5 linked regions of the Homo sapiens genome follow. The protein of the gene in region 1 purifies or fractionates together with the protein of each later gene. This does not show direct contact. Each region holds a gene or a part of one and is shown in the gene's direction. Other genes may lie near its edges. The genes, in order: CEP41, URM1, HIP1R, RIC8B and WARS1.

The links.
Region 2: the proteins of CEP41 (region 1) and URM1 purify together in Homo sapiens (affinity purification with mass spectrometry; one large-scale study listed by BioGRID and IntAct). This does not show direct contact.
Region 3: the proteins of CEP41 (region 1) and HIP1R fractionate together in Homo sapiens (co-fractionation; one large-scale study listed by BioGRID). This does not show direct contact.
Region 4: the proteins of CEP41 (region 1) and RIC8B purify together in Homo sapiens (affinity purification with mass spectrometry; one large-scale study listed by BioGRID and IntAct). This does not show direct contact.
Region 5: the proteins of CEP41 (region 1) and WARS1 fractionate together in Homo sapiens (co-fractionation; one large-scale study listed by BioGRID). This does not show direct contact.

Annotation. Positions count from the first base shown.
Region 1 is NC_000007.14:130,409,730-130,413,980, reverse strand, and holds part of CEP41 (centrosomal protein of 41 kDa), read left to right. Parts: intron 1-1,740; coding exon 1,741-1,802; intron 1,803-2,789; coding exon 2,790-2,859; intron 2,860-4,251. UniProt on the Homo sapiens protein: Required during ciliogenesis for tubulin glutamylation in cilium. Probably acts by participating in the transport of TTLL6, a tubulin polyglutamylase, between the basal body and the cilium.
Region 2 is NC_000009.12:128,373,623-128,377,873, forward strand, and holds part of URM1 (ubiquitin-related modifier 1), read left to right. Parts: intron 1-4,251. UniProt on the Homo sapiens protein: Acts as a sulfur carrier required for 2-thiolation of mcm(5)S(2)U at tRNA wobble positions of cytosolic tRNA(Lys), tRNA(Glu) and tRNA(Gln). Serves as sulfur donor in tRNA 2-thiolation reaction by being thiocarboxylated (-COSH) at its C-terminus by MOCS3.
Region 3 is NC_000012.12:122,845,208-122,849,458, forward strand, and holds part of HIP1R (huntingtin-interacting protein 1-related protein), read left to right. Parts: intron 1-2,823; coding exon 2,824-2,887; intron 2,888-3,258; coding exon 3,259-3,401; intron 3,402-3,588; coding exon 3,589-3,645; intron 3,646-4,251. UniProt on the Homo sapiens protein: Component of clathrin-coated pits and vesicles, that may link the endocytic machinery to the actin cytoskeleton. Binds 3-phosphoinositides (via ENTH domain).
Region 4 is NC_000012.12:106,840,124-106,844,374, forward strand, and holds part of RIC8B (chaperone Ric-8B), read left to right. Parts: intron 1-2,465; coding exon 2,466-2,694; intron 2,695-3,728; coding exon 3,729-3,824; intron 3,825-4,251.
Region 5 is NC_000014.9:100,357,597-100,361,847, reverse strand, and holds part of WARS1 (tryptophan--tRNA ligase, cytoplasmic), read left to right. Parts: coding exon 1-140; intron 141-1,185; coding exon 1,186-1,294; intron 1,295-4,251. UniProt on the Homo sapiens protein: Catalyzes the attachment of tryptophan to tRNA(Trp) in a two-step reaction: tryptophan is first activated by ATP to form Trp-AMP and then transferred to the acceptor end of the tRNA(Trp).

The DNA of each region.
Region 1 (4,251 bases):
TCTTGGTTTATGAGACATTTATGCTGTGAAGGCCATAGCAATTAACCAGCTAACCTTTAATAATTCTGAAATAATGAGGCAGCAGTTAAAGAGTCATGGGTACCAATATAAAAACCTAGGTGAGGAGGAAAGCATGAGGGCGGGCAGAGTTCAACACTGAAAACCATTCAGAATTTGACTGTCATCTTCAAAACAGTTTAAGGAAGCTAACCTTTAACACGTATCTATGGAACAGATAATAGATAAAGTGCAACTGGCTTAGTTTTTAATAACTGTTTAATGTGATGGGAAGAATTATGAACACAAGTGCAGAAGTACCTATATGTGAGTTATAGCTCAGAATTGTCAAGACAGCACTGAATAAATATTGATGTTTTAAGTTTTTTTTTTGTTTTTTTTTTTGTGACACAGTTTCACTCTCACCCAGGCTGGAATGTGGTAGTGCAATCTTGGCTCACTGCAATCTCCACCTCCCAGGTTCAATTGATTCTCATGCCTCAGCCTCTGGAGTAGTTGGGATTACAGGTGTGCACCACCATGCCCAACTAATTTTTGTATTATTAGTTGGGATTTGTATTATTAGTTGTATTTTGTATTATTAGTTGTATTATTAATTGGAGTGTTGGGATTACAGGCATGAGCCACCAAACCTGGCCTAAGTTGGTTTTATTTTATTTTTTTAAATGGTGGGGCCGGACGCTTTGGCTCACGCCTGTAATCCCAGCACTTTGGGAGGTTGAGGTGGGTGGATCACTTGAGGCCAGGAGCTCGAAACCAGCCTGGCCAACATGGTGAAACCCCGTCTCTACTAAAATACACAAATTAGCCAGGCCTGGTGGTGGGCAACTGTAATCCCAGCTACTCGGGAGGCTGAAGCAGGAGAATCCCTCGAACCTGAGAGGCGGAGGTGGCAGAGAGCCGAGATCACACCACTGCACTCCAGCCTGGGCGACAGAGAAATAAAAATAAATAAAATAAAATGGTAGTAAACAACAAAAACAAGAACACATAACACCTACCATCGTAATGGTTTTTAAGTGTACAGGTCAGTGGCATTAAGTATTTTCATACTGTTGTACAACAGAACTGCAGAACTTTTTCATCTTGCGAAACTAAGTAGGTTAATTTTTATTGGAGTGAAGTTGGAGAGAAGCTGAGAGATGATCAGAACCAATCACAGCTGTGTGCCCAGCATACACTTAGAAATGTTGTCCTGTGGCTTCAGCATAGTGTGTAATGGCAGGAATAATATTGCTTTCTTTTTAAGCTGGAGTCAGAATAGTGGGGCATGAACGTCTCACCAGCTGTTTGAGCTGGGGCAGCTCAGCCTCTCTGAGTCTCTGTCCTCATTTGTAAAACACGGACATTTCTTCCCTGCTTTACTCTGAAAAGGATTTGAGGCGGCTTACAAAAATGCGTGGAGTACAATGTGGTCGAAGTAGAGACAGCTTAGTTAAAGGAAAATGGTAGACTAATAAAATAAAGGCAAGGGGTAGTCACTAGACCAAAGGTAGCTTATAAATTCAACTTTAAGCTTCCTAATGACAAAGCAAAGGGAAACAAACTGAACAGATGATACTACTACCTGCCACACCTAATTTTGATGATATCATGAGGCTCAAATGAGATAATAGATGTAAAAGCATATAAATAACTTGAAAGACCACGTCACTTGACAACTAGAAAGAATAGCTCTAAAAAAGCAAAATAGATAAATACTTGTCTTACCATATTTTTCAGATTATAGATACAAAAAAGATGAGCTTTTCAAGAGACTAAAAGTTACAACTTTTGCCCAGCTGGTAAGTTTCTTGATTTTTCCACTGGAGTAAAGTCTGTCTAATTTGTGCCACTTTATGTATTTCTAAATTCAACTCTAGGGAAAGTTTGCAGAGGAGTTTCTTCTGATTCTTTGTATGTCGTTCAGCTATGGGAAGATTAATTGGTATGTGGTGTGTGTGTTCACATGAAGATGGTGAGAAATGTTTCTCTCTTCTTTGATAAGAATTCTATAAAGTAAATGTTTGCCCTACTTTTAATTCATTAAACTTGTGGTTAGGGGTTTTTTTCCTTATACATTTAACTTAATATTTAGAATCTAAAATTCTGGATCCTGGATTGTTTCAACGTTTTTCTCTGGAAACCAAGTGATTTCCCCTTTTCTTGGACTGATCTTTTCCAAATCATCCTGCCAGAGCTGTTTTGTTATTTTGGGCAAGTCACTTTCTTCTTTTATTTGAAAATTATGGAGAAGGTGTCTTTCCAGTTCCAAGAGTTCCACTGGCATAACTCAAGTTGAATCTTGGGTCTTGTGAGCTAAGTTGTGAAAAGTGCTTTAAAAATGAATACTGTATAGAAGTATAAAACACTGTAATCAGTGTATTTGTTATTACATTTACTTCTTCATTGCGTGGATAATTGCTGATACCATTCTATGTTATGCTAGGTCAGTATTGCATTTTCAAGAAATAATGTGTAGTGCTTGGACCACGATATATACAGATGTGGTTTTAAACTCTTATTCATGTTTCTTGTCCTAAATTTTCCTCTTAGCATTCTAAGTTTATGTAGTGTTCTAAGTGTGCTTTTCTTCTGAAATGATCATCTGCAGTATATTACCAACACAAAAGGAAGGAGGCCTGAGATTCAGCGTTCAGTTGAGGACACTGACAGCTTCTTAAAACAACAGATCTTTGATGTTTGTTGTTCCCTCGTCTTTTGTAAAAGACAAAATTGCGTCTGTTTAAAAACAAACAAACATCCACACATTTCATTCTTTTTTCTATCAGATCATCCAAGTTGCTTCCCTCTCTGATCAAACACTGGAAGTGACAGCTGAGGAGATTCAAAGGCTGGAAGGTAATGAGAATTGAGGGTGTGGGGAAAATAACAGGCTGACCATTTGACTGAAACACTCACCCTGTACACATTTGCTGTCTGTTCCCAGGGACTGGGACTTTGATGTATCTATTTGTAATTAGATTGTTACTCTCAGGGAAATGCTACCTGATACTTTAGTTGTTAATTCTTATTTTAAAAAGCCATCTGGTTTTCTGACTCTAACACTTACAGTTTTAAATGTTTTAGATGTGTTTAATATACTAATTACTTTTTTCAACAAATATTTTTAGCATTCTTTGTACCTACACATTAAGTACTATGAGACTGCAGAGGTGAACAAAACACAGCTCTGCTTACATGAAATTGACAGTCACATGTGTGCATGTGCACACATGTATGTGTGTTGGGTGGGCTGAATGATAACAGTACCACAAAATTACTAAGGTGGCAGAATTTTAAAATGGAGGAATGGAAGGAAACCATCGTTTGTTGGCTGTATATTGCAAGGTGAATTCACATGAATTTTCTTACTTAAGCTTCTTAAAAACTCTGGAAGGAAGGTACACTTTACAGATGAGAGGCCCAAGCTGCAGAGGTTAAGCTGCCTCCTCAAAGTGATACAGCTAATAAGGAAGGGACCTGAGTTACAAATCTAAGTGTGCCCAGTAGCATCCAGTGTCTTCTTGCTGCCTTCATTGTACCCTTAAGGGACTGAAAAGTACCTTCAGGAAAGATGCAGGATGTTGTGGGAGAGTTCCAAGGAAGGAAAGACACTTCCAGTTAGAAGACCAAGGTAGGCGGCCAGGCACGGTGCCTCACGCCCAGTGCCTCACCCCCATAATCCCAGCACTTTGGGAGGCCAAGGCGGGCAGATCACGAGGTCAGGAGTTCAAGACCAGCCTGTCCAACATGGTGAAACCCTGTCTCTACTAAAAAAAATAGAAAAATTAGCCAGGCACGGTGGTGTGCACCTGTAATCCCAGCTACTCAGGAGGCTGAGGCAGGAGAATTGCTTGAACCCAGGAGGCGGAGGTTGCAGTGAGCTGAGACTACGCCATTGCACTCCAGCCTGGGCAACACAGCAAGACTCTGTCTCAAAAAAAAAAAAAAGAAGACCGAGGTAGGCTTCCTCAAGGCACTGGAACTGGGCCTTGAAGTGGGGTAGAATCTCAACAGGTACAAGTTAAAGATGAGGCTGTTGCAGGCTGAGGAGCAGCCTGTGAAAGGCATGGAGAGGACAGCACACCAGGCATGTTTGGGGAATCGAGTCATCCAGTCTGGCTGTGGTCTAAGGGACGAGTAGGCGCTGGGTAGGAGATAAGGCTAGAAAGACAGGTAGGCTCCATTTCTCCTTTCTTAAATACCAAGTTGAAAATAAAACCTCCTAGTTGTACTCTCATGAAAAGAATA
Region 2 (4,251 bases), on another chromosome or scaffold:
GCAGGATTCAAAGTATGTAATATAGTTGTGTTTTGTGTCCCTGTGGTCCATGTTGTAAAGGCCCAGATATGGAGTTCTCTCCGTCCCACCCCTCTTCCTCCTTCCCAAGTTGGGGAGGTATTGGCAAAAGGAGGGAATGTCATTGAGGTCAGAGAAGAACTGGGAGAAATGGGCATTTCCTTTCCTTTAGCAGATATTTGTTGAGTGTCTACCATGTGCCAGGCCCTGTTTTAGGCAGAGCTTGCAGCCCAGCAGGTGGAGAGGAAGTAAATAAACAAAATATATATATACGTGTATATGTATGTGTATATACAGAAGATTAAAAGATGAAGATACATCAGAAAAGGTGAAGGTGGTTTTGAGAATATCTATACCTGTCACTGGTATCTACAAACACATCCACCAAGAATTGGGGGGGTTGAAGGAAGATGGAGATATGTCAGTTGAGTTTGAATAGCAGATCTTATAAGACATAAGAGAGTCTGGCCTTGGTCTCTCCTGGGCTAGAACAGGCCCCTTGTCTGCCTCCCTGAATCACTCTTGAGGCTGGGCATGCACCTTCCCCCACTCCAGATGTGCTGACAGCAGAAATGCCAACCCCTCCCTTGAGGGCCAGTGAATTCAGCAGTGACAGGTCACTCTCTGAGCGAGACTGGTTCTCCCTTCATCCGCTTGTAAAGGGAAAAACAGCCTCGGCCTCTGAGCCTGGCACCACCAGGTTTGGCCAGTCTTGGTTGTTTGCCTAAGTCCCAGTGCCTTCAGTTCCCATCCCTCTTCTCTGACCCCCAACTCCTGAGCCCCTTGCCTGTCACCCTCCCCCACCCCAGCTGCTGCATGTGCCAACCCCCCACCCAGGAGAAAACGAGGCTCTTGGAAGGGAATAAATGGAGGCTCTGTGCAGGCTTGCAGCTGAAATGGCCCTGTGCGCGGCCACAGATGGGCCTCCTCTCCCCCTCCACATTTCTGCATCAACAAAGCGTGACCTTGTTTGGATGACAGTCGCCCCATGTTTTCCCCATGACAATGCTTGCCTTGCCTTTGCCTCCCAGCGGGCTGTCTCAGGACATCTCTGTTCCCTGAAATTGGGAAAGGGTGGTGGGGTGGAAGACATCTCATTCTTCAAAAGTCTGGTGAGGCCTTTTCAGTTAAGATCCACAAGAAGTCTGAGATGGGAATTGGGAGACCCAGAGGGAGAAGCAGCATGGGGCGCTGAAAGAGCCCTGGCGCTCATCTCAGAAGCCTCAGCTTCTGGACTTGGCTCCAATCATCTCTGCAGTCCCCGCCTTCCCTTGGCCAGGTGCTGGGACACAGAAATGAACCAAACTCTGCCCTCAAGAGGCTTTCTGACCTTTGGGAAGTCCTGTTTTTTTCTGACCAGTCTGCTGGTGCTAAGCAGGAATCAGTTAGACTGAAATTATAGTTCAGCCCCTGCCTCTCTAACCTTGGACAAGTTGGTTGCTTAACCTCTCTAGGCTTGAGTCTGCTTTTCTATCAAAGTGAGCAAATAATATCTACCTCCTTCCTTCTTCCCTGGGACTCCCTGAGGATGAAATGAGATGAGGAACATCTTATAAATGGTGAGGCGATGTGAACAGTTGTTCTTAGTTGATGCCAGGCCTCATGGACTCTCTCAGCCTCCAGCACTGTGATGTACCCACCAGGTCAGCAGCAGGTGGCATGGGCAGGAGCATTCAAACCATCATCTGGCCAGAGGAAACCCCTAGATGCACAGGGTCTCCAGAGTGCCTCACAGTGGCTCCCCAACATTTTTCCAGATGGAAAGACTGAAGCTTAAGATTGAGTCAAGGCCAGGCATGGTGGCCCACACCTATAATCCCAGCACTTTGGGAGGCTGAGGCAGAAGGATTGCTTGAGCCCAGGAGTTCAAGACCAGCCTGGGCAATAGAGTGAGACCTCACTATGTTATAAAATATTTTTAAATTATTATTAGTTTTGAGATAGGGTCTCACTGTGTCGCCCAGGCTGCAGTACAGTGGCATGACCTTGGCTAACTGCAGCCTCAACCTCCCAGGTTCAGGTGATCCTCCCACCTCAGCCTCCCAAGTAGCTGGGACTACAGGCGCACACCACCATGCCCACCTAATTTTTGTAGTTTTTGTAGACACAAGGTGTTGCCATGTTGCCCAGGCTGCTCTTGAACTCCTGGACTTAAGCAATCCTCCCTCGCCTCTCAGCCTCCCAAAGTGCTAGAGTTACAGGTGTGAGCCACTGTGTCTGGCCCCCAAAGTATTTTAATAACAAAGAAAAAAGAAGATTGAGTCACACATCTAAGGTCTCAACATAGGGAGAGGTGGAGCCTGGGCTTCACATCGGGGCCGGCAGCTCCAAAGGCTGTGTTCTGCACCTGTGTGGTAAGCTGCCTCTCTAGAAGGCAGAGGAGTAAAAACAAGAGTCGGCAAATTTGGGTACTTGATTTTTTTTTTTTCTTTTTAAATAATTAGAGACAGAGCCAGGCATGATGACTCACAACTCTAATCCCAGCACTTTGGGAGGATTGCTTGAGCCCAGGAGGTCAAGACCAGCCTGGACGACATAGGGAGACCCTGTCTCTACAAAAAATAAAAATAAAATTAGGCAGGTGTGGTGACACGTGCCTGTGGTCCCAGCTACCTGGGGGCTGATGTGGGAGGTTTGCTTGAACCCAGGAGGTTAAGGTTGTATCAAGCTGAGATCACGCTACTGCACTCCAGCCTGGGTGACAGAGTGAGACCTTGTCTCAAAAAATAAATAAATAGGCCAGGCACGGTGGCTCACGCCTGTAATCCCAACACTTCGGGAGGCTGAGGCAGGTGGATCACGAGGTCAGGAGTTCAAGACCAGCCTGGCCACAATGGTGAAACCCTGTCTCTATTAAAAAAAAATACAAAAATTAGCCAGGTGTGGTAGCACGTGCCTGTAATCTCAGCTACTCTGGAAGCTGAGGCAGAGGATTGCCTAAACCCAGGAGGCGAAGGTTGCAGTGAGCCAAGATCGCACTACTGCACTCCAGCCTGGGCGACAGAGCGAGACTCTGTCTCAATAAATAAATTTTTTTAAAAAGTAAAATAAAATAATAAAAATAGGCCAGGCACAGTGACTCATGCTTCTGATTTCAGCACTTTGGGAGGCCAAGGCAGGGAGATTACTTGAGCTCAAGAGTTCGAGACCAGTCTGAGCAACATGGCGAAATCCCATCTCTACAAAAAGTACAAAATTAGCTGAGTGTGATGCCATGCACCTGTAGTCCCAGCTGCTTGGGGGTCTGATGTGGGAGGATTGCTTAAGCCTAGGAGGTCAAGCCTGCAGTGAGCTGTGATTGTGCCACTGAACTCCATGCTGGGTGACAAAGCAAGACCTTGTCTCAAAAATAAATAGATAATAATTTCCCGGGTGCCTAATGATAATAATAATTACATAGAGACAGGGTCTTGCTATGTCACCAAGGCTCTATTTCACTGAGGCTCATCTCAAACTCCTGGCCTCAAGCAGTCATCTCGCCTTGGCCTCCCACAGTGCTAGGATTCCAGGTGTGAGCCACCACACCTAGCCGGTACTTGATTATTAGTAAAAATTATATCCTACCTTGCCACATTAGAAGTCATATTTAGGAATTGGTCACTGGGTCTGGGCAGAGTGGCTTGTGCCTGTAATCCCAGTGCTTTGGGAGGCTGAAGTGGGAGGATTGCTTTAGGCCAGGAGTTTGAGATCAGCCTGGGTAACATAACAAGACTCCATCTCTACAAAAAATTTAAAGATTAACCTGATATGGGCCAGGCGCGGTGGCTCATGACTGTAATTCCAGCACTTTGAGAGGCCAAGGTGGGCGGATCACCTGAGGTCAAGAGTTTGAGACTAGCCTGGCCAACATGGTGAAACCCTCTGTCTAAAAATACAAAACTTAGCCAGATGTGGTGGCTCATGTCTGTAGTCCCAGCTACTCGGGAGGCTGAGGCACGAGAATCACTTGAACCTGGGAGGCGGAGGTTGCTGTGAGCTGAGATCACACCACTGCACTGCAGCCTGGGCAACAGAGTGAGACTAAACAGAGTAAAATAAAATTAAATATAAACATAAATATTAATATAAAAAGTAGCCTGATATGGTGGCATGCACCTGTAGTCCTAGCTACTTGGGAGGTTGAACAGGAAGGTCTCTTGAACCCAGGAGTTCAAGGTTACAGCGAGCTATGATTGCACTGCTGCATTCCAGCATAGGCGACAGAGTAAGAACCTGTCTCTAAGAAAGAAAGGG
Region 3 (4,251 bases), on another chromosome or scaffold:
GAGTAGGTGGGACATCACTGGGACCTGGCGGGCTTCTCCCGGGACAGGGCTTAGCTGCTACTGCCTGGTCAGAGGCGAGGCCCACGGAGCAGCCACAGACTCCCACTGTGCGAGCACTGTGCCTCCTTGTGTGGCGCTCTGAGCCTGGTGCACACATCTGCCCATCCTAGACACAACGGGGCTGTGTTCCCAGAGCCAGCCGGCACCCTGCCCGGGAGGGCCCTGCTGCCACGGATCCTGTCCCCTGCCGCCAGCGCGGGGAGCAGGCAGCACTGAGGCCCAGGCGCACAGGAGACCATGCCATGTGCCCAAGGCATGCCCCGTCACACTGCATTCCTGGGGCCTCCCTCCTGCCATGAAAGTCATTTGCATGCCAGGCACTGTTGAGGAGCTGGGGGTTCAGCAGCACCTATAGGCCGATCTGCTTCCCCTCGTGTTGCTGACTGCTGGGTGAGGGGAGAGGGTGATAAATAAGGAAACACTCCACTGTCTGAGGGTGCCCGGCCCTCAGAGACCATCCATCCAGAAGGTGCAGATTTCAACAGGGCGGCTGCAGGAGGGTGTGAGGGTGCCGGGTGCGGGGAGCTGGAGCTCTGCTGAGTGGGCATCTGGAGCCTAGGGCCTGGGGACACGGGTGGCTGCACCTTGGCCTCACTGTGTCTTTCCTCGCAAAGAGGAGAGGGCAGCCCATTCCCCCAGAATGTGTTCTCTGCTTCTAGGGTCCCTATCTCAGCCCCATCCCGGGGTTTCCTCAGTGTCAGGAGAAACCCCCGCATCTCTGTGTCTACAGCCTCTCTGGTGCCAGGTCTGCACCAGTCACTTCGCCTCCACCCTTCTTGCCAGGAATCTTCCGAACCAGGTGGCAGCTCAGGTGTCGGCAGCTGGGGATGGGGTTACACACCCCGGAGACGGACACGCCTGGCTTGTGACAGGACAGCTGCTTGCCAGTGAGCTGGGGAAAGTCACAGCCCCTGCCTCCTGCCCTGGGAGCCCCTCCCCACGGGAGGAACTGCCTGGGGGCTGTTCAGAGTCACTAAGGACACAGGTTGTGGAATCAGACAGACCTGGCTTTGAACACTGCCTTTATCCTTATTAGCTGTACAGACAAGTATATAAGCCTTCTGTGCCTCAGTTTCCTCACCAGGAAAATGGGTTAGTCACCACTTCCCTGGGCTGTTGCTGGGAGGCGAGTTGCCCATGCCTGGCTGGGGCTGGGCACTCAGGATCCTTATCATCATAGCTGCTGTCGTGAGCAATATTCTGCCTCTGGGGGCATGACACTCTCAGCCATGGCTTCTCACAGTTGGTGGATACGAGTTTGTTCAAGGAAGGAGCTGAGGCCTGGGGGCCACTGGCTGGGCAGCCCTCAGGATCAGGCCCACCAGAGCCTCTGTGCATTTCCTCAGGTCGTGGTTCCTTGAGATGGGACCGCAGCTCCTCCCCGACTACAGGGAGCAGGGCTCAGGGCAGCCCCAGGACACCTGCCTGGGAGGGTCCAGTACAATGGGCCCTGTGTGTGAAAGGGGGTCAGCATCGTGCTAGGGGCCGGGGGCGGCCCAGAGGCTGCCTGGCCCAGCCCCGCAGTCCCCTAGCTCCCATCTGAGGTCCCACCAGGTAGGGCCCCCCAGCTTCCCGGGCTGGCTTTTCTCACAGAGGAAATTCCACAGTAGACCCTAATTGGATGTCCTCTGCTCCGGTGTTGGGTGGGAGAGTGCAGTGGTGTCTGGGGAGAAGGCGCAGGAGCGCTGCACTGTCCTGCAAGCCGGCTCCCTGCCCTTCAAGGCCTGCCTGGCTTAGGCCAGCCTGTGGCTCAGGAGCCCAGCTGCCCTGGCTGAGGCTGGGGGCTGCGTGTCCCATCTCAGTGTCTGCATCTGTCGAGGCCCTGTCCCTCCCGCCCATGGCCTGGACAGCTCTTCTCAGGTCACAAACATTGGTGGTGGGGGACAGAGGTTTAGCAGACCTGTTCCCTGCATGAGAAATACCCCATGCCCCACGGAGCCAGGGCCGGGTTGTAGTGATGGTACCGCCGTGAGCCCTCCTCGAGAGCACAGTCACGTCCAGGAAGCCTACTCGGAAAAGGAGGCAGTAGCCGGGGCGGGGGGGGAGGGGTGAGACTGCCATAGGTGGAGCGGGAGGGATGCTGAGATTCTGGCCTTGGTCAAGTGTGAAGGTGCCACTTGCGCAGCTCCGGGTGACAGCTGCAGACCCCACTCCTGCCTTCCTCCGCCCCTGGCTGGGCTGCAGGTGGCAGCAGGAGCTTGACACAGTTTGACAGGGTGAGGCCCCACCCAGGAGAGGGGCAGCCTATGGGGCAGTGGGCCACAGGCCCTGGGCTTTGCCTAAGTTTCCTGGGAATGCCTCCCAGGAGAGTGGGGACAATGTGATGTGCACCCTTCATGGGGTGCCGCAAAGGCCAGGTGGGCCCCAGCCGGGGGCTCCAGTCTCAGCTGCTTTTCCCCAAGGGGAGATGGGGCCGGAGGACACCACACTGGGCCATGACCTGGGGCTCAGGGCACCACATCTGCCAGGAGAGTCAAGTCGTGCAGGTTTTGGGCAGGATGGCCTCCCGGAGCCATAGCCCAGCTTTGGTCCTTGTCCCCTGACTCCTGGAGCTCTTGGTGTTCACTGTAGTTCCAGCTGCACCGATCAGGCACAGGGAAGTCCTTCAGAAGCTTAGGTTGAGGGGATTCCTGTCTCCCCCATCGCTCCACTGGCCTTGAACCCAGGCAGAATCCTGTTCAGTATTGTGCTTCTCCCCCTTGGGGTGGTGTCTCCTGGGGTGGCTGCCTGGGGCTCTAAACACTGCTCCTTTGTCCCTCACAGGCCATCAGCATCAGCAAAGCCATCAACACCCAGGAGGCCCCCGTGAAGGAGAAGCACGCCCGGCGTATCCTTGGCCGGCTCTTGGACCCAGGAGTTGGGTGTGGATGTGGGAGCAGCGTAGTGCTGCAGGTGGCCTGCGGTCAGCTGTGCCGGGGTCACAAGTTCCCTCACTGAGCCCGGGGAGGAGGGTCCTGTGCAGCTTGGCTCCTTCCCATCTCAGTCTCATCACAAAAACGCCCCCATTGGGCCCAATGATTTCCTTGTCTTGCCCTAACTCCTGTCCCCTTGGCTGGACACTGGAGCTCTGGTGACCCGGGGTTGATGGGCACGTGATTGGGGGCCGGCCCTCTTCCGGCGGCCCTGGCCTCTCTCAGCCGGGTTTGCTGAGCCCCCGTGCTCCAGTCTCTGCTTCCACACTTGGCCTTGACATTGCAGGCATCATTCTGGGCACACACCACGAGAAGGGGGCTTTCACCTTCTGGTCCTACGCCATTGGGCTGCCGCTGCCCAGCAGCTCCATTCTCAGCTGGAAGTTCTGCCACGTCCTCCACAAGGTCCTTCGAGACGGGCACCCCAATGTGAGTAGCAGCTGCTGCCTCTGCTCCCCGGAGCTGGGGCACTGTCCCGCGGACATGCGGGCTCTGGCCCTGTTCCTGTCCCCGTAGCTCCGGGCTGTTCCTCCCGCCTCGGGTGGGGAGTGCGTGTCTCAGGGCCCTGCCACACGGTCCTGGACACTCCCCCACTCCCGTATTCCCTGCGCTGCAGGTGCTGCATGACTGCCAGCGGTACCGCAGCAACATCCGGGAGATTGGAGACCTGTGGGTAGGTCCAGCCATTCTAGGTCCTGCCTGGCATTCGGGGCTTTCCTGAGCGTGTGGGGCTGAGCGAAGGGTGGCTCCCTGTGGGCAGTTCCCTGCGGGTGGCTGGGTTTTCCCAGGGGCGACAGTGGGAGGGGCAGCACGGGGAGATGCTGCCTGCCTTTGAGGGCCTGGCCCAGGGCGCTCCACACGCATAACCAGTGGGCCCTCCAGCGTCGAAGTCACCCGGGCCCTTTAGTCCTCACGAGTTGGGAAATGTGGCAAGACCACAGCCCGGGCACCTCGGTGGTTAGAGAGCCTGTGGCAGGGCGCAGGTTCCTGGGCTCCCCCAGACCTGCTGCTGAAGAATCAGGACTGGAGGTCTGCATTTTGAGCACACACACAGTAAGGCCTGAGAGCCCTGGGGGGCCTGCAATCTGGATGCACTGCAAGACCTCAGGAGTTAGAGATGTCCCTGGTGGGCAGAGGGCCTTGGCCTGGTTCTCTCTGGAGCACTGTGGGGTGCTCGTCTGCCTGGGCAGGGACATAGGAGCAGGGCAGGCCCTGGACCGGGTACCCACAGGGAGGCCTGACCAGGGCGTTATCCAACCCAGAACCACTGCCCGGACTC
Region 4 (4,251 bases), on another chromosome or scaffold:
ATAAAGAAGATACATTTGACCAGCAAGATTTATTAACAGCTATGGATCTACGTGTGCCATATCATGTTCTTCAGTGTAATTTCATGTTTTTGTCCAGCGATTCACAGAGGACTAGATTTTAGATTGCCTTTCCTCTCCCACAACTGACAAGGCTTTAATCAGGGCATTAAGGAGTTCTAAATAGGTCTTGCTTTTGAATCTGCATATCAGGAGGGGGCTGGGAGCATGAGCGGGAGGATGTCATGTCTCAGTGATTAATGATCTCTAGGAAGCTGAAAAGGGGAGTGTAATATACACAGTATTTCTACCCCCTGGAGTAGGAATGCAAACACTATTGTGCAGATCTGTGCATAGTCACTGACTTCCTGGTAGCTGGAGAATTTCATACACTCTTCTACCACAAATAAAACTGTCAGAGAAGTGACAGAGCTCAAAAAGCTGGCCTTCCTTACTTAAAAAGAATAGCTCAAACACAGTGAGCCAGAAAAATTAATTTTGTAGTTGTTTGGAAACCAAGTTGTTAAATAAGAAATAAGAAAATGGGAACTTTTCTTGAAAAGCCTAAAACCTCCAAATATTTGTTGAATCAAACTCTACATTTGGTTTCTTAAATTTACTGAATTCCTGGAAACTGCTTACTTTAAACGAATTTAAAGGGGAAACATTCCTTTGTAATGAAATGACCCATCTGAAACTTTTCAATCTGGTCTCTGGTAGGTTCAGAGCATCATACGGTCAGTGTATTTAAGAGCCTATTGCCTGATGTTTAGGGAAAAAATCATAACATTTCAGAATGGCTTGTATACAGTTTTTGAAAATAATTCTAAGGTAGAGTTATTTCCCCCCTTTTATTCTCAATGAATCTATGGTATTATTTAGTAACAATTTCTAAGTGCTTAAGATAGAAGCAAAACGTTCTGAACTATAGATAAGATAAACTACAGATATTTGCAAAAAAAAGTTTTAAGAGAAAGTTTTGGGGAAAGCTTATATTTCAGCCACCTTTGATTATTTACCAATAACCAAATATAGAGATTTTGTGCATAACACCAGTAGCAGCAGCAGTATTTGGTTTTAGTGAGGGCAATCAAATAACTTGTATTTTACTAGGAACCATTTATTCATATGACTTGTTAAATTATTTTTTGCTCTTGATTCATTTTTTTGATGCCCTATACATTACCACTTTCTGTTCTGCATTGTCTAACTTTTCAACTGACTTGTTACTGGTTTTTATTTTTCCATAATATAAAAAGAAAGGAAATATTCATTCTTGGGGAAGTGGAGCACAATTCAGGGTAGAGGAAAGAAAAATTTTTGTATTTCTATTTCTTTGTTTTTCTGTTTGTTTTGCTTTATTTTTTAGGGTGTCACTATAATCTAAAGTAGAAGGAGCTACTGGTCTAAATTAAGATAGTATCAGATAGATTAAGCTCTAAATTTGGTTTCCAAGTGGTTGGACTTTTAAATTGCATTTGCAGGAGTTTATTTTTAGTCAGGATGTGGTTATTTTTAGATCTGCTTCTCTGTCACTAGGAAATAAAATGCCTGTCTTTCCATTGTTGATCAGGAAGTTCTAAGGCACAGGCATATAAGAGCCAGTTAGCCCAGAACACCACCACTCCTTTTAGATGAAAGAATATGAAATAACTCATGGAAGAAAATATGTTTGTTGAGAACATATCTAATTTTGAAATTGTTAGTGTCATTTTAATCTTTTGTACACTGAACAACAGAACAAGGTTTTTAGGGAATGCCAAAAATATAAGGTTTGGGTTCCCCCTACTGGTGTGCATCCCAGTCTCGTGTATTCATTAATACACAGCTGAAAGGCCTAGGGGCTAGAGATTAGAAATAGCTATATTAACTTCATTTAGAGACCTGATGATAAGAAAGAGAGAAAAAACTCCATTTCCCTTTTTCTGCATATGTCTTACAAAAATTGGGATGATTTTTAAATTGTATTTTCTACATTTAGAAAGAATAAAACTTAATTCTACCATATTTGGTTTATTGTTGTTGCTACTGATAAGCTGCTTATTTTCAGTGTTTCTCAAATGCTTTATGTTGTAATCTAAGGAATAATAAAACACCAGTGGATCCACAAAAGGATTTAAAATCCCAGGGAAGAAATGCAAAGCTAGCATTGTTGCCATAATAAAATTAAGGAGCTGGCATTAAAGCTCACTAATTCCTATTTTAGCATTTCAGAAAGTGACATGACATCATGTGATTGTGTCTGTCTATTCAACATTTGTTTTTTTTCTAATTTGTACAACATATATTTGAAACAGTTTTTTATTTCCTATCTCATAGTAAGTGTCAAGTGTCCATAATGGCTCATTTTTGGAAAAGAAATATTTTAATTGACTCTTAAAAGTCACTTTTGAACTTCTTATTATGTTTGCATTTTAAAGGACTATTCAATCAAGTTAAAATATTGTATTTTTTTAATTGCTTTTCAGCAATGCAGTCAACCTTTTAAGCAATGTTCCAGTCTCTTGTTTGGATGTTCTCATTTGTCCGTTAACCCATGAAGAAACAGCCCAAGAGGCAACGACTCTAGATGAACTGCCCAGTAATAAAACAGCTGAGAAAGAAACAGTTTTGAAAAACAATACCATGGTATACAATGGTATGAATATGGAGGCCATTCATGTTTTACTGAATTTTATGGAGAAGAGAATAGACAAGGTAAGGCTGATAAAATGGAAGCCCTGGGAAGATGCTTCCAAAGAATGTAAATGTGCCATACATACAGACACACATCACAGAGCATGATTTTTAAATCTAAGCTTTTTTTCTGACTGATGTGCTGCATAATTGTTTTTACTTTGGAAAGCAGTTTATTACAATATATGATAAATTGCTGAAGCCATGTTAATTTATTTGTTTAATGCTGAAAATTATGTTCATGCAACACCAAAATTATGACTAGTGCTTGAAAACAAAGGAAAAAGTAATTACTGTTCCATTTTGTTACTTTGTGAGTCCTAGAAATAAAAAATATCCCCCCAAAAACTTGCTAAATACTCTTCATAATACCTAAAAGACATCTTCCCAAAAAAAAGAAAAAAGAAGACCTTGTCAATTTCCCATTTGTTGTGAGCTGTTTATACATTCTCTGGTCTATCACTCACTTTGTCAGGTATCTGTATTAAAAGGCAGCAAGGTAGCATAGTCCAGTCACCAAAATTTTGCTTCATTCAAGCCCTTTGGCTAAGCCCATGGGAATCCTAGAAAATGTAGGAACATCCAGGAAGGACCAAAAAAGGCAATAGTAAACATGAAGATGATAAAATGGAAATGTTTTTAGGAAAAGAATTTTTAAAATAGTTTGTAAGCTTAGGTAACATAAGATGTCCCCACCTCGTGGATCACGAGGTCAGGAGATCGAGACCATCCTGGCTAACATGGTGAAACCCCATCTCTACTAAAAGTACAAAAAATTAGCCAGGTGTGGTGGTGGGCACCTGTAGTCCCAGCTACTCAGGAGGCTGAGGCAGGAGAATGGCGTGAACCCGGGAGGTGGAGCTTGCAGTGAGCCGAGATTGCGCCGCTGCACTCCAGCCTGGGCAACAGAGGGAGACTCCCTCTCCCAAAAAAAAAAAAAAAAAAAAAGTCCCCACCTCAAAAACAAATTGATATCCTCAGTTACATGAAGGAAAGTAATACTGTTAGAAACAAAACTAACGTATTTCAAAAACATATGGTTTTTTTTTTTATAGGGAAGCAGCTATAGAGAGGGTCTAACTCCAGTTCTCAGCTTATTAACCGAATGTTCCCGAGCCCATCGAAACATCCGAAAATTTCTCAAAGATCAGGTAACTGCTTAATGCATATTACATTGCAAAGTTAGTCTTTTTATGTGCATTTTAAACATAGAATTAATTGAATTTTCTCACAATGATTTTGTTTCAGATAATCAGAAACTCAGTCTTAATCTTTGAAATCTTCTTAATCAAGAAGTGTGTATTTTTTGAGTCATTCATTCAGCAAATGCTACCGAGATCTGCTGTGTGTGCTGTGTTTTGGGCATTGAACAACAGATGAAGTCTTTCCCCTTGGGAAGTTTATTTTGTAGAGAGGGGGACAAAAAGTAAACAAATTTAAAATATAATGGCAGGTGGTGATAAGCATTCTGAAGAAAGGTAAAGCATTTTAAGAGAGAGGAGACACTTTAAGGGAACAAGGGAGGACCTCTCTGAGATGACATTTGAACAGAAAGGTGGAAAAGTAAGAGTATCTCTG
Region 5 (4,251 bases), on another chromosome or scaffold:
CAAGGCTGACTGTCCTCCAGGGAACCCAGCACCTACCAGTAATCATGGCCCAGATGCCACAGAAGCTGAAGAGGATTTTGTGGACCCATGGACAGTACAGACAAGCAGTGCAAAAGGCATAGACTACGATAAGCTCATTGGTACGTCCTCTGCTTTCTTCCCAGAAAAAGCTGCAACTTTTAGAAGTGGTCCCATTGAGTTGATTCCATTGATGTTTTTAAATTTTGAATTAATCATAAATTCAGTGAAGCTTCAATGCCAAGAAAAAATGGATACTAAAATCTTTTGGTTGTGCATTATATTCCCAAAGGATTATTTTAAAATAAAATAACAATATAAAATATATTTCAAAATAATGATCTATAGTAGACAGCTTAATAGAAGGTTTTCCCTTTTTTTGAGCACTTCAGAACTTGGGAAAGGTCTATTGAAATGGCCATTTATAACATTTAGTGGCTACAAGTCAATCATAGATTACTTAGGTTTCACCTCCAGTGATACTGACTATGGACCTAGAAGGCTGGAAGTCAGCTTAAGAGCAGTGACTTCTCACATCGGGCAAGTTCTTACTGTCATGCCCTTCCTTGAGGGCCTTCCTGCTCAGGAAAGACTGTTGCCATTCCATTGAAGTCTTTACTCTGAGATCATTGCTAATTATCAGAGAAGAAACAGAACTGAAATGTTTTCATCTAAGTCAAAGCCATTTTCCATGATTTCAGTATAGACTATCAATGAGGGAAAATTCACTTGAAGACCGACATTAATTCAGTTCAACAAATAAAGAATGTGAGAAATCATGGTTGTCAATGAATATAAATTTTACCTTAATAAACAAATATATATATATATACCTATTTATATATGTATATGTTTATATTTTGTTGTCAAAAGTTGCTAGCTGGACTGCATTCTGAATATGTTTCCCATCAGAACCCAGTCTCAGGCAAAACAGCATTTTGTGTTGTAATTTATTTCCTGTTTTGTTGGTTGTGTTGATCTCAGCTGTTGTTTTAATCCAAAGACCTTTTACTTCATGTTGGGGGTAAGGACCTTTAGCAGAAGGCCTAAAGAGGTTTGTGTTCATTAAGATTGTGCATGGATCACTCACTTTTCATCTTCATTTCAGTAATATCTGATCACTAAACCTCCTGCCACCTAAGAAAGTCATCTTTTCTTTTTTTCCAGTTCGGTTTGGAAGTAGTAAAATTGACAAAGAGCTAATAAACCGAATAGAGAGAGCCACCGGCCAAAGACCACACCACTTCCTGCGCAGAGGCATCTTCTTCTCACACAGGTCAGGGGCTCTTCACCACAGGCCTTCTCACCTGTCCTCTTCTTTTAGTTCAAAAAAATCGTAAGACACTCTCTTCATAAGCCACCTGGTACTGTGGGAAAAGTGATGGCCAGCTGTGGTAAGACTGAGATCCATCCTCTGTCCTGTCAGTAACCCACTGTGGGATCATGCTTGTCCATCACCCTCAGGCTCTTAGTTTTTTCATTTGTAGACTGCCCACCTCACAAGGTGGGAATCATATTAATAGCAGGTGAGATTCTTCCCAGATTACAGGCTGTAAAGAAATTATAAAATGTCATGAAAACAAAAGAGAATAATATGTCCAAGATCAGCATTTCCCACATGACAAACAGTAGGCTTCCTGAAATTCCAAACCCTCTTCCTCCTATTGTATTGACTTGCTCATAAACAATACCAACAGACAAACCAACAGAGAATGCATGGAACAGATTATCTGTACCTTAGGCCGTAAATTCCACGCAGATAACGTCAAGATATGGGCAGGTTCCAAAAGAGTTTCTGCCTCTCCCAACCTACAGTTATCTGGGCTGAGGCAGCCCCCTTTTTGAAGCTGTGTCCATGGAATTTATGATCTGATGTAGGGTTGTTCTGTTCTACTGGCACTTCACGCTTACAGGAGAACAACCCCAGGACAGAGCCCAGCAGTCTGCCCAAACACTTCAAATTCTACCTGCAAAGAACTCCAGGCCTTGCTCAACCCACTTTCTGGGTGGAATATAATAAAAAATTTTCCTTAATTCACATACTATAAAACTTATTTTTTTAAATGTACAGTTAAGTGGGTTTTAGTATATTCACAAGGTTGTGAGACCATCAAGACTATCTAATTCCAAAACATTTCATCACCCCAAAAGGAAACTTCTACCCATTAACCCATTTATGCCAGAAGTTGTAAAAATTTTTTGTGAAAAATCAGACCTTGGCAATCACCTTGAGCAGTAAGATATCAATAACTCCCACAAGTTTAGCATTCCAATTTTGGAACAGTAGGTAGGCATAAATGGGTTAACAGTCATCCCCCATTTCTCCCTCCCCACTGGCAACCATTAGTCTGCTTTCTCTATATCTAGATTTAGGCATTTTATATAAATGGGATCATGTAACATGTGGCCTTTTGTGTCTGGCTTCTTTTACTTGGCATAACATTTTCAAGGTTCCTCCATGTTGTAGCATGTATCCATACTGGATTCCTTTTTATTGCCAAATAATATTCCATTGAATGGATATACCTCACATTTTGTTTATTCATTCATTAGTTGATGGACGTTTGAGTTATTTTCACTTTTTGGTTATCAACAATGCTGCTCTGACCATTTGTATACAAGTTTTTGGGTGGATATATGTTTTCAATTCTCTTGGGCATATACCTCGAAATAGAATTAATGGCTTATATAGTAATTCCATGTTTAACTCTTTGAGGAACTGACAGACTTTTCTACAGCAACTGTATCATTTTACTTTCCCACCAGCAACATAGGAAGCTTCCCATTTCTCCACATCTTCACCCACTCTTGTTATTTTCCATGTTGTTGTGTTTTATAGCCATCCTAATAGGTGTGAAGTAGTATTTCATTGTGGTTTTGATTGTATTTCCCTAATGACAAGGATGTTGAGAATCTTTTCATGTGCTTATTAACAATTTTTATATCTTTAGAGAAATGTCTATTCAGATCCTTTGCCTACTTTTTAATTGGGTTGTCTTTTTATTGTTAGTTATAATAGTTCTTTCTATATTCTGGATACTAGTTTCTTATTCAAATATTACTTGCAAATATTTGCTCCCATTATATAGGTTGTCTCTTCACTCTACTGATAGTCCTTTGAAGTATGAAAGTTTTTAATTTTGATGAAGTCCAGTTTATTTTATCTTTGATTGATTGTGTTTTTGGTGTCATATCTGAGAAACCACTGACTAATCGAAGGTTGTGAAGATTTACACCTATGGTTTCTTCTCAGAGTTTTGTGGTTTTAGCTCTTACATTTCAGTTTCTGATCCTTTTTGAGTTAATTTTTGTATATTTGTGAGGTACAGCTCCAACTTCATTCTTTTGCTTGTGGGTATCCAATTGTCCCAGCACTGTTTTTTGAAAAGACTATTCTTGGCTGGGCGCAGTGGCTCATGTCTGTAATCCCAGCACTTTGGGAGGCCAAGGCAGGCGGATCACGAGGTCAGGAGATTGAGACCATCCTGGCTAACACGGTGAAACCCCATCTCTACTAAAAATACAAAAAATTAGCCAGGTGTGGTGATGGGCGCCTGTAGTCCCAGCTACTCGGGAGGCTGAGGCAGGAGAATGGCATGAACCCGGGAGGCGGAGCTTGCAGTGAGCCGAGATCGCGCCACTGCACTCCAGCCTGGGTGGCAGTGAGACTCCGTCTCAAAAAAAAATAAGAAAATGTGAGTACTCAAACATGGTTCTTTTTCAAGATTGTTTAGGTATTCTGGGCCCCTTGCATTTCCATATGAATTTCAGCTTTTCCATTTCTGCAAAAGCAGCAGCTAGGATTTTGATAGGGATTGCACTGAATCTGTAGATTCATTTGTGGAGTATTGCCATCTTAAAATATTAATTCATCTAATCCATGAACATGGGATGTCTTTTCACTTCTTTGATTTCTTTCATTGATGTTTTGTAATTTTCAGTGTATAGGTTTTGCACTTCTTTGCTTAGATTTATTCATTAGAATTTTATCTTTTTAATGCTATTCTAAATGGCATTTTCTTAATCTCATTTTGATTGTTCATTGCTACTATATAGAAATACAACTGATGGCCGGGCACGGTGGCTTACACCTGTAATCCCAACACTTTGGGAGGCCGAGGCGGGTGGATCACTTGAGGTCAGGAGTTCGAGACCAGCCTGACCAACATGGTGAAACCACATCTCTACTAAAAATACAAAATTGGGCAGGCATGGTGGTGGGCGCCTGTAATC